Homo sapiens: one gene and its partners. The protein of the gene in region 2 purifies or fractionates together with the protein of the main gene of each other region. This does not show direct contact. Each region holds a gene or a part of one and is shown on either strand. Other genes may lie near its edges. The genes, in order: GINS2, EIF5A2 and GINS1.

Region 1 (4,024 bases), on a different chromosome or scaffold from region 2:
TCAGGGAGGTTGGAGAGGAGAGCATCCGGTTAGCTGGGGCGGGGGCAGGGGGTGCTTTCTGCTGGAATTCCAAACCCTGGAATCCTCATGTCTCCTGTGATTTTTCTCGCGGGCCTAATTATCAAGGTTTCAAATTCGACTGCAGTCCTAGAATAGCGCTTCACCCCCAGGAAGCTTTTCCGGCCATGACCACCCCATCAAAATCACCTGGCCCTGGATGAAATTCAGCTTTCTGTCCTTTCCACGACTCCGGAATCCCAACTCCCAGGAGCGTGCACACAGACAATGGGCACCCGCTAGGGGATTCTGACACAGGTGAGCTCCAGCCACCGCTCTGGCTTCACCTGCGCCCACTGTACAGGGGCAGCCGGTCCAGCGAGCAGGTGAGTATTTGCTCAGGTGGTGCAAACCTGCCGCTCCTGTCTCATGTGGGGCTCCTGCCGAAGTGCAAATTCTGAGCTCCTGCTCTGAAGTGTCCGAATTGGAAGCTGTGGGGTGGGATGGAGGAATCTGCATTTTTACAGCTGTTTTAAACAATGTGTGCAGAGAGGGCAGAAGATTGTGAAATTAATGGAAACAAGGTCTTCCCTCATCCCTCTATCTGTCAGCCCGGGTGATGCCTAGTCCCGGGCCCGGTGCTGAGTTTGGGCCAATAAATGCTTGTACTCTTGGCCTGGCACGATGGCTCCCACCTGTAATCCCAGCACTTTGGGAAGTCGAGATGGGAGGATCGCTGGAGACCGGAAGTTCAAGACCAGCCTGAGCAACACAGCAAGATCCCAAATCCACGAAAAGTTGTTTAAAAATTAAAATAAAATAAATGCGTTTACTCTTGGCCCCATGCGGAACGCCGGCGTAGAAGCGGCCCGGAACCCCACCCCCGGCTCTTGATTAGGGCCGTTTGCGGCGGGCGCCGGGGACAGGTGAAGGGACACCAAAGCTGGCGCCCGCGGCAGGAGATCCTGACAGCGCCAGGTGCACGCCCACGGGCGGGGCGGGGCCGGGGTGGGGGCGGGGCCTGTCCGCGGGCCGGGGCGGGGCCGGCGCGCAGCCTCCCTCGGCCTTGCCAATCCGCGGGCTCTTCGCGAGCGCGGTCTCCGCCCCCCCGCCCGCAGACAGCGCCTATAGGCTGTCTACCGCCTTCCTATAGGCTGGCGCAGGCCGTCTTCCGGCCGGGGCGGGCTCTCGCCGTGGCGGGAAAACGGCGGCCGCGGCGTCTCCTCCGGGACGCTGAGGGGCCCGAGGAGACCGTGAGGCTCTGGCCTGCAGCTCGCGCCGCCATGGACGCTGCCGAGGTCGAATTCCTCGCCGAGAAGGAGCTGGTTACCATTATCCCCAACTTCAGTCTGGACAAGATCTACCTCATCGGGGTGAGGCCTGGGCCCGCCGTGGGGAGGGGAGGCCGGGCTGGGCGCGTCCGGGGCTCCCGCGTGGCCTTCAGCCCCGGGGTCGCGGGCTCGCCCTGCTCCCGCATCTGCGGAGGCCACCACTCGGCGCTTGACTCGCTCACCGCCGTTCCCGCTTCTCGGATGAGGAAAGCGAGACTGCGCTCTTTGCCAGTGCCCCGAACGCCCGGGTTTACAGGGTTTTTTTGATCTGTTTGGGGGCTTTTTTGGTTTGTTTTTTGGTTTTTGAGGTGGAGTGTCACTCTGTCGCCCAGGCTGGAGTGCAGTGGTGCCGTCTCGGCTCACTGCAGCCTCCGCCTCCCGGGTTCAAGCGATTCTCCTGCCTCAGCCTCCTGAGTAGCTGCTGTTACAGGTGCCCGCCACCACGCCCGGCGCATTTTTGTATTTTTGGTAGAGATGTGGTTTCACCGTGTTGGCCAGGCTGGTCTCGAACTCCTGACCTCATGAGCCACTCGCCTCGGCCTCCCAAAGTGCTGGGATGACAGGCGGGAGCCACTGCGCCCGGCTTATTTATTTGGTAGAGATGCGGCTGGCCTCGAACTCCTGGGCTCCCCAGGCGATCCTCCCACGTCGGCCTCCCAAAGGGCTGGGATTATGGGCAAAAGTCGGCTTTGCCTCTGTTTGTTTTTGTCTTTATCTTTGAGATGGAGTTTCGCTCTATCGCCCGGGCGGGAATGCAGTGGCGCGATCTCGGCTCACTGCGGCCTCCGCCTCCCGGGTTCAGGTGATTCTCCTGCCTCAGCCTCCCGAGTAGCTGGATTGTGAGCCCCCGCGCCCGCCCGGCTTTGCGTTTTCAGTATGAGGGAGGCGCCTCGGCGCTGGGAGTCCTGGAGAAGGAGGGCAGGCTCTGTACCTGCCCAGACCCACCTCCCCGCACCCCAGGACCCCAACATTGGGTGTGTGAAACCTGTTCCGGAGTTGGAGGGTGCAGGCGGGAGAGGGAGCGCCCCCCACCCACTCAGGGGAGACTTGCATCCTGTCCGCGGAAAGGCCAGAAGGACTGAGCCCCACGCTCGCAGGTGTCTCGGAGCCGCTCAGGAGGCGCTTTGTTCTGAGTCTGGTAACAGTTGGGTTTTTATTATTTGCATTTGGACTTCAGCCTCTGCAATGCCTTGCCTCTTATTTGATAGCAGTAACGCACAGTAATGCTTTTTTTGTTCTTTTTCAATCTTACGGGGAATTGTTTTACTTTTGGCAGGGGGACCTGGGGCCTTTTAACCCTGGTTTACCCGTGGAAGTGCCCCTGTGGCTGGCGATTAACCTGAAACAAAGACAGAAATGTCGCCTGCTCCCTCCAGAGTGGATGGATGTAGGTAAGGATGTGGTGGAGACTGGTTGATGCGTGGGTGGGGCTGGGCTTGGGGTGACGCCCTCTCCCACGGGGTGGAGGCATGGGGCCTCCTTCCTGACTAGGTCCGTGCTCCCTCTGTTCCGTTATCTACTGATCAGCTGAAAGGAATACTTCCAGATTCACCTCTCAGCAGAGTCTGCTAACCACTGTTAGTAATGTCATGTTAGGTTTTGGTGTGTGTGAAAGTTGTAGTTTGTTTTTTGAGACGGGTCTGACTCCATCACCCAGGCTGGAGAGCAGTGGTGCAATCTCGGCTCAATGCAGCCTTCACCTCCTGGGTTCAAGTGATCCTCCTGCCTCAGCCTCCCAAGTAGCTGGGACCACTGGCGTGCGCCACCACACCCTGCAAATTTTTGCGTTTTTGTAGAGATGGGGTCTTGCCATGCTGCCCAGGCTGGTCTCAAACTCCTGGGGTCAAGCGATCTGGCCACCTTGGCAGATCTGCTGGGATTATAGGCGTGAGCCACTGTGCCCAGCCTATATTTTAATGTAAGATATTTCAATTTGCTTTAAAATAAATATATGACCTTAAATAAGCATTTGTTTTAAAATTTTAAAAATAAGTATAGATTAGCATGTTGAGAAGCAGTTATAGAGAATGCATGAAAATAATATATCACAATAAGGTTGAATATTATTCAGCTATAAAAAGGAATGGAATTCTGATACATGCTACTGCGTGGATGAACCTGAAACATCTTAAAGATCTTGCTGAATGAAAGAAACCAGGCACAAAAGGCCGCACACTGTATCATTCCATTTCTATCAACTGTCTAGAATAGGCAAATCAATAGAGACAATGTAGATTAGTAGTTGCTTAAGTATGGGGGTCTTGCTTTGGGTGATGGAGGGATTGTGGAGTTTCTTTTTGGCATGATGAAAATTGGGATTGATGGAGGTAATGGTTGCCCAAGTCTGAATATACTAAACACCATTGACTTGTACACTTTGTTTTTAATAGCCCACAAGTGCTACTAAAACTTGTATACTTTTTTTTTTTTTTTGAGACAGAGTCTCGCTCTGTCGCCCAGGCTGGAGTGCAGTGGTGCGATCTCGGCTCACTGCAAGCTCCACCTCCTGGGTTCACACCATTCTCCCGCGTCAGCCTCCCAAGTAGCTGGGACTACAGGCGCCCGCTACCACGCTCGGCTAATTTTGTTTTTGTATTTTTAGTAGAGACTGGGTTTCACCGTGTTAGCCAGGTTGGTCTCAATCTCCTGACCTCGTGATCCACCCACCTCAAAACTTGTATACTTTAAATGGCTGA
Region 2 (3,946 bases):
TGGGGATACAGGCTAGAAGACTTTAACTGGTACTTCTTTTACTGCCCAACTTTGCGTTGTGGATCTGGTAGATTATGGATATTTGTAATGATCATAGATACAAGGTGACAACTGCCATGGTATCTCTGGCATGGCTCACCTGTTGGGGAGCAAGAGGGATGTTCTAGAATGGTACAGTGTATAAGGAAGAAACCACCGAGCCACCTAGAAATGAACATGTCCAGTTGGTGTGGATTAGACATGGTGAGGATTGGCAAAAGGGTGAAGCGTTTGCTTCAGGGAATTATCACACCACTCATGTTGTGGAAAGGGAAAAGCAACCCCAGCTTGTAGGAAAGAAACACCTCACACCCTGGGAAATCAGGGGTGAGGGAAGTAGCATTGCCCTCTCCTACATTAAATATCTCTGGAAGGACACATAGGAAGGGGATGAAGAGGGGAAAATGTCTTTAGTCTTTTGTACCTGCTGAATTTTGAACCAAGTGACTATTTTATATAGTTTAAAAAACATTAAACATTTAAAAATAAAATTGTACCTAAACCTCAAACTAAAATTTAGAAATTAATAGTCCCAGTCATAATGCGAGGGCACTACGTAAGGACCTAGAATATAAAAGTACTCAATAAAAACAAGTTAGATTTTCTTTTAAAGTGACATACGCTTAAGTCATACAATTTTTGGGTATGAAATTGTTTTAAAGATGTATATGTACAAGAATAGTGCAAGCTGTTAACTATTTTTATTTAATACAACTGATGAAGTTAACAGACAAATATATTTTAATAATATCACAAAGTTATAATTGTTAAGGTATTATCTATATTTAAAGGTTTTTTAAGTCAAAGACTTAACATTTGAATTTTAACTATTTTTGAAATGTAAAATGTACAATTAGTAATACCCATACTACGTATTTTAGAATTTTAAAGTTTTAGCGAAAACATTTGAGTTTCTGCAGGTAAAAGCAATAGTTCTCCTGTATCTAAGAAAAAAAAATGTATTACTAAAAAAGTGCCACTGAATTTAGACAATGCTAAACTGTTTCCTTTTTGGGGAGGAAGACAAAAGTACATAACAGTATAGAACTAGTCATTTTCATTATACTAGTATAGAACTAGTAATTTGCATTATGCTTTGTAACAAGCACAAGAATGCTTATTTATAGTAGATATTAACCACAATAAATAACTCCTCAAAAAAGATCACAACTATGATGTGTGACAAGCTGTTCGGTCATTGCTGAAAATAGTCCAGAGTTTTTTAAAAAGTGCAATCTTGAACTAAGATAAACTTAAGTCTATCAATACCAAGAAACAGTTTTAGGGACTTCATATAAATACAATAACCTGTCTTTTTTTTTTTTTTTTTTTTTTTGTAAAATAGGTTTCTACCTGTTCTAAGGAGGAGAATAGTGGTAGATGGCAAAGTTGGCAACAAGTATGTTTCTAGCAGGTGAAAGCCTGGTATGCATTGCCATAAAGTGCATCTTTTACATAAGGAAAACATGCTTATTAGATGTATACAGTACTTTTCAGGCACTTGACCTCACTTGGTAGCTAAGTTGGTGTTCAGATGTTTGTTTAATGGAAAAACATTAAATTACATATTGGCTTCAAGCCATGTTCCCATAGAACATCTGTGTTTCATAAGCTAAATCCAAATGTTCCCTGCTAAAATCAAATAATGATGCCATATACCCAATTCAGAGAAAAAATTTAATAGATTAAATAGATTGAATTGTCTCAATTTTTAAGGTTTTCCACCATAAATTTTTCTTAAATCTTTGTTGCCTGTTACTTGTCTGAATGTTAGCAGAAAAAAAAGGCTTGAAAACTATGAAATATTATGCCTAACTGATGTTAAAATGAGAGCTGCTGATCAGTACAATATACTGTTAATGGAAATATGCTTATATTTTCACTCTTACACTGCTTAAGAGCCATATTTTCTCATAGTAAATGCGTTCCTAGTTCATATTACAGAATTCAGTATGTAAACATTTCAGTGTACCCAAAAAAGCATTATGAATTTATCTATTATCCCTAAATATGTTTGGTGAACCTCTACATCAATGCCTGGCTCCAAAACTATCTCTGGGGTCCATGCCAAAGGAATGCTTTCAGATGTATCCTAAGGATAGGATTCTAAGATGAGACTGCCAAAATCTATTCTAAAATGAAAAAAATATGGCAAGATTCCAGTATGGATGCTACTGTTTCCATTTTTTTCTTGACTATTTAGCATGTAGTTTAAGTGTGTTGACATTAAGGATTTTTTTATATGCATGTATCACAGTTATTACAATTTGGGAAAATTCTGCCAATATATTTTCAGGCAATTAGCTTTAAAATAATGAAATTTCAGCTTTTAGCACAAATAGCCCTGAGAACAATGCATTCAAATTACAGCTCAACTAGAAATATTCTAATTGAGAAACCTTAAAGTACAAAAACAAGTTGTGGAAAGTTGTAAATTTAAAAAAAAAAAGTTACCAACAGTTGAGGCACCAACAGACTACAATACTTTTAAGAGTTGGGAGTTTGGAAAAAAGAACTAACATATAAAGTTATGTGCGCACATGTGCACATGCAAATTGCATTGTAATGAAAAATTGTGTCTCCAAATTTTACAGCCTAATCATTTTATTGCAGTATCTCCTATTATAGATATCATGCTCTGATGCAGGAGAGTTTTGGTAATTAACATAAAGCGCTGGTACAGAGACTTGTATCATTAAGGGAAACAGAGTCAAGAGCTTGGTTAGCAACAGTTTCTTCAAGTGACTGAGCCCCTGGAAGGGAGCATGAAAAAAACATCATAATTATGTTTATGATGCAAATGCTAAGTCAAAGTAGCAATGATATGATCTATGTTGTAGCAAATAAGGTATAACAAAGTCTTCACAGTATAAATAAAATGTTCTAAAAAGAAACAAATATTCAACCTGTTAATAAATTGGTGAAATGTATACAGATAAAAATGGCTTATCACTGTACAATGATATCAACATGACAGTCCACATTCTATACATGGTAACTCGTGATTTTTAACATTTGCTACAAAAAAGTACAACAAATATTGGGAATCAACTTTAACATTTCTGATGTCTAAAAAGAATGAAGTCACTTCTGTTCTATGTTAAAAAATACATGTTCCCCGCTTCCTTTTAATATAATTTATAAAGCTTTACTAAATATTTTGTTCTAGAGAAACATCTATTGACTTATGTGAAAATAAAGTCCCATATCTTTAAAATCTATACTTATATATCGAGTATTTACACTTCATATATTACTTAAAATGAAAATATTTATGCATAAATAGCGTTTGCCATTCAAAGTATGAAGATAGAGATGCATTATTATAATTTGTACACCCTTAATTTGTACACAATTGAAAATATATTTATGTGAAATTTTACAAGTTAGGAAGAACAGGGGCATGCTAATTGAGAGTTAATACTGAATCATAACACCAGCATGGTTAAGAGGGGCCATATGAATGAACTGCAAGCAGCACGGATTAATAATTTTCTGGAATTCCTATGAGTTACAATGCCAACCAGTAGCAATTAAGATACACATTACAGAGTACTAAGAAACTAGAGCAGTATGTAGTAGGTACTTAAATAGAATACTGGAAAGAATGTAGCCTAATTTTAATTGTGCTTTAGATGGGCAAAAGCTAAAATGTTGTAGGAAAGACGACTAACTACTACCTCACTATTTCTTGTGCTTTAGAAATTTCCTTTGTATTTCTCTTAAAGTATCTTGCTTCTTCCCCAAATTGGTTTGCCGAGGCTAAGACAATATTTAAAAGTGTGTACAAATTAAGCAACTAAAACTTGGGATCTTCTGTTACTAATGCTATTTCCAGTCACTGATTAGATCAGTTACATCATCATATATGATATACTTTCCTTTAGAAGATAGGAACAAAGGGCTT
Region 3 (3,726 bases), on a different chromosome or scaffold from region 2:
TCTTGTCACCCAGCCTGGAGTGCAATGGCACGATCTCCGTTCACTACAACCTCTGGCTCCCAGATTCAAGCAATTCTCCTGCCTCAGCCTCCCAAGTAGCTGAGATTAGGCACCCGCTACCACTCCCAGCTAATTTTTGTATTTTTAGTAGAGACAGGGTTTCACCATGTTGGCCAGGCTGGTCTCGAACTCCTGATCCCAGATGATCCACCCGCCTTGGCCTCCAAAATTGCTGGGATTATAGGCATGAGCCACTGTGCCTGGCCAAAGGTCCTTATTTCTAAGACAAAGAAAAAATAGTAAGAACACTACCGTATTCAGTAGTGAAAGACCGTGATGCACTTAAATAGTGTGGCACCAACAAGTGAAACACGATGAAAAAAATATGGCAAAATAATAAAAATTGTTAAAACCATATGATAGCTCCACTGGGGTTCATTATAGTATTATTCTCCCTACTTTTAAAAGTGTTGTGATTTTTCATAATAAAAAATTAAAAAAATGAAAACACAGAGGAAAAATTTAGAATGCTTACAAAGAGAGAGAGATCTAAGATTTCATGTTACCCATTTGAGATGGTCAACTGGGAAGCCACACAGAAAATCCTGCCACCCCAAGCAAAAACTGAGAAGCTTACAGGTATGCTACAGTGCAGCGTCGATTTCTTAACAGAGAACAGTGTCGAAATTTGATAGTTGGTATCAAATCACTTCGTCCACCTGACTTTGCTTCATTCCTGATAGGAGCATTTAAAAAGAAAAAAAATATGTACTTTTCAGGATAAGTAAAATTTTCAAAGCCAACTAACAACTGAGTTACATGCTTGTTTTTAATCCATTTGTGATTAGCAGTTAACCTAAGCAAATAATAACTATTTGTACATCAGAGCTTTTATTAATATGTTAAAAAGCCAAAACCTAAACAACTTGCCTAAGATCATGCTACCAGATACATTTTGTTTAGGCATTTGGTACTTTGCATTTTTGCACACTGATTAATCTCTATTCTTTCTAAAAGACACTGTGTTATTCACTTTTCAGGATTCCATTATCACGCTGAGATAAGAGACAAAGCTAACATGATGGACATGAGGTTATGGTCTTACGTCATGTCGCTATTCTACATAGTACCTCCCTTCCAGTGGAGCTTCCAAATCCTCATTATAACAAAGTGAGGTAAAATGGAGTCAAAATGGTCTTTCACTCATCTTACAAATATCTGTTGATCTCCAAATACGTGTACGTACTATACTTCAGTATTTCTCACACTGAAAATTTTGGTTTTACCCTATAAAAAGTACATGTAACTTTTGAATGAATAAGAATCTACTTTGGAGTTTTTAAGCAACCATATGCATATAAAAAGAATTCATTCATGTAGTGCCTGCCTCTATGCCAGGCACTGTGCTAGGCCCTGATAATACAGGCAAAATACATGTCCCATCCTGTCATGTCTTCTAGGGCTGTTCTATATACTTCTGCCACCCTATGAAAGTCTGATGAAACTAGGAAGGTGGAATAAAGAATTTTGGATCATGAATTTGCGAATGGCATAAACACAGAGAATACAAGAAAATCATTCCCTTACTGAACCAAGGCCTATAGGGTCTCCTCCAAAACATTTATAACCTTCTCACTTTCTACCAAGTCTGGGTCACCTCTCTAGTAACCTGGTGACCAGCTTCCCCCACCTCTCAGCCCCTCCACACAGCAACCAGCATTATCTTTTAAGACACAAACACACCACCACCTGTCCACACTTACACCTCATCTGGTGTCATCCTTTGCCACTTGCCAAACTCCAGCCACATAGGTCTTCTTTAAGTGTCAGTTTCTTGAGTGCCCCATTCTCTTCCATGATTCAGGGGCTTTTGCATATGCTGTTCCCTCCACCTAGAATGTTCTATGCCCACAGTCACTGCCTCCCTAAGACTTGCATCTCCTGCAGGCCTCAGCTGAAATGTCTCCTCTTTGGAGAGAAGTTCCCTGATTCCTCAATTTAAGCTAGACCTTCTATTCATTTTTCTTTCTCCTTGCACTCTTCTGATTTCCTTCATAGCATGAATCCCAATTTGGCATATCTATATTTCATGTCTGTCTTCTGCACTAGACAGTGAGCGCCAGGGACAGGCATCTTTTTTTTTTTTTTTTTTTTGAGATGGAGTTTCGCTATTGTTGCCCAAGCTGGAGTGCAATGACGCGATCTCGACTCACCACAACCTCCGCCTCCCAGGTTCAAGCGATTCTCCTGCCTCAACCTCCGGAGTAGCTGGGATTACAGGCATGCGCCACCACGCATGGCTAATTTTGTATTTTTCGTAGACAGGGTTTCACCATGTTGGTCAGGCTGGTCTCGAGCTCCTGACCTCAGATGATCCACCCGCCTCGGCCTCCCAAAGTGCTGGGACTACAGGCATGGGCCACACTGTGCCCAGCCCGGGAAAGCCATCTTGACTGTTGTTTACCACTGAAATAGCACAGCCACTTATTGATACATATTTGTTTAGTACATATTTGAGTAAATCAATGAATGGCTTAGGGACTTGAGTTCAGGACTTTAAATCTGCCTTATATTTACTGCAAATCTGTTGAGGTTCACTTCCTCAGTCCACCTGTAAAGATTTTTCTGTATCTCTCCTTATACACAGGAGTTGGAAATGCTCCTATCATTTTATGTGCCTCACAAATCTTACCAGCCATAACACTGATTTCTATATTCAAGTAACTGATAAAAACACTGTAGCGAACAAGCCCAAAGAGGAAACCTCATGTCACAGACAGTTGAGACCCTGAATACTTCAACTTTGATCCAGTACTTGACTCCCTTTGGTGTCGCACAGGAACATACGAAGTTTGTCATACGCCCAAATTCTCCACTGTGCCAGCTACCATGCTCAGTTCTAAAGAGTCAATAAATCTAGTCACCTCTCTGGACCTACTACACTGAAACCTTTTATAGCTAGTTCTCAGAGAACTCCACTCAAACTATCAGAAATCACTGCTGCTCCTATTTATATCCATTTAATAAACTGCCTATTCTTCCTTTAACAAACTCACTAAGGCAACTGTTGATAAAAATATAAACAGTGGGAACCATGTATTTCACTTTGTTAGGTTTTTATTTTTATTTATTATTTTTAAAGATGGAGATCTCCTTCTGTCACCCAGGCTAGGGTGCAGTAACGTGATCATAGCTCACTGCAGCCTCAAACCCCTGCACTCAAGCAAGCCTCTCACCTTACCCTGCTGAGTAGCTAAGACTCCAGGTGTGTGCCACCACACCCAGCTAATTTTTATTTTTTTAATAGAGACAGAGTCCTGCTATATGTCCAGGCTCCTGGCCTCAACTGATCCTTTTGCCTTGGCCTCCCAAAGCACAGGGATTTATAGCCATGAGCCACCGTGTCCAGCCTATTTTTATTTTTTATTTTAGGGTATGTCATTTATTTTAGGTCCACTCTAATTCCTTTCAACTCTTATCAGCCAAACAACAGATATTTATTAAGCAGTGATCAGCACAAATTTCTTCAGACTTTTGCTAATTTGTACAGCTAGAGCAGATAATTTTACAGATAATTTTTAAAAATCGCATCCCAAAACTAATGCAAGGTTATCTGATTTCAACATCTTTTTTTTTTTTTTTTTTTTTTTGGAGACAGAGTCTTGCCCTATCGCCAGGCTGGAGTGAAGTGGTGCAATCTCAGCTCACTGCAACCTCCACCTCCCG

What was found.
Region 1: the proteins of EIF5A2 (region 2) and GINS2 purify together in Homo sapiens (affinity purification with mass spectrometry; one large-scale study listed by BioGRID and IntAct). This does not show direct contact.
Region 3: the proteins of EIF5A2 (region 2) and GINS1 purify together in Homo sapiens (affinity purification with mass spectrometry; one large-scale study listed by BioGRID and IntAct). This does not show direct contact.

Annotation. Positions count from the first base shown.
Region 1 is NC_000016.10:85,686,155-85,690,178, reverse strand, and holds the start of GINS2 (DNA replication complex GINS protein PSF2), read left to right. Parts: upstream 1-1,224; 5' UTR 1,225-1,280; coding exon 1,281-1,370; intron 1,371-2,604; coding exon 2,605-2,719; intron 2,720-4,024. UniProt on the Homo sapiens protein: Required for correct functioning of the GINS complex, a complex that plays an essential role in the initiation of DNA replication, and progression of DNA replication forks.
Region 2 is NC_000003.12:170,887,697-170,891,642, forward strand, and holds the end of EIF5A2 (eukaryotic translation initiation factor 5A-2), read right to left. Parts: 3' UTR 722-3,946; downstream 1-721. UniProt on the Homo sapiens protein: Translation factor that promotes translation elongation and termination, particularly upon ribosome stalling at specific amino acid sequence contexts.
Region 3 is NC_000020.11:25,414,114-25,417,839, reverse strand, and holds part of GINS1 (DNA replication complex GINS protein PSF1), read right to left. Parts: intron 737-3,726; coding exon 638-736; intron 1-637. UniProt on the Homo sapiens protein: Required for correct functioning of the GINS complex, a complex that plays an essential role in the initiation of DNA replication, and progression of DNA replication forks.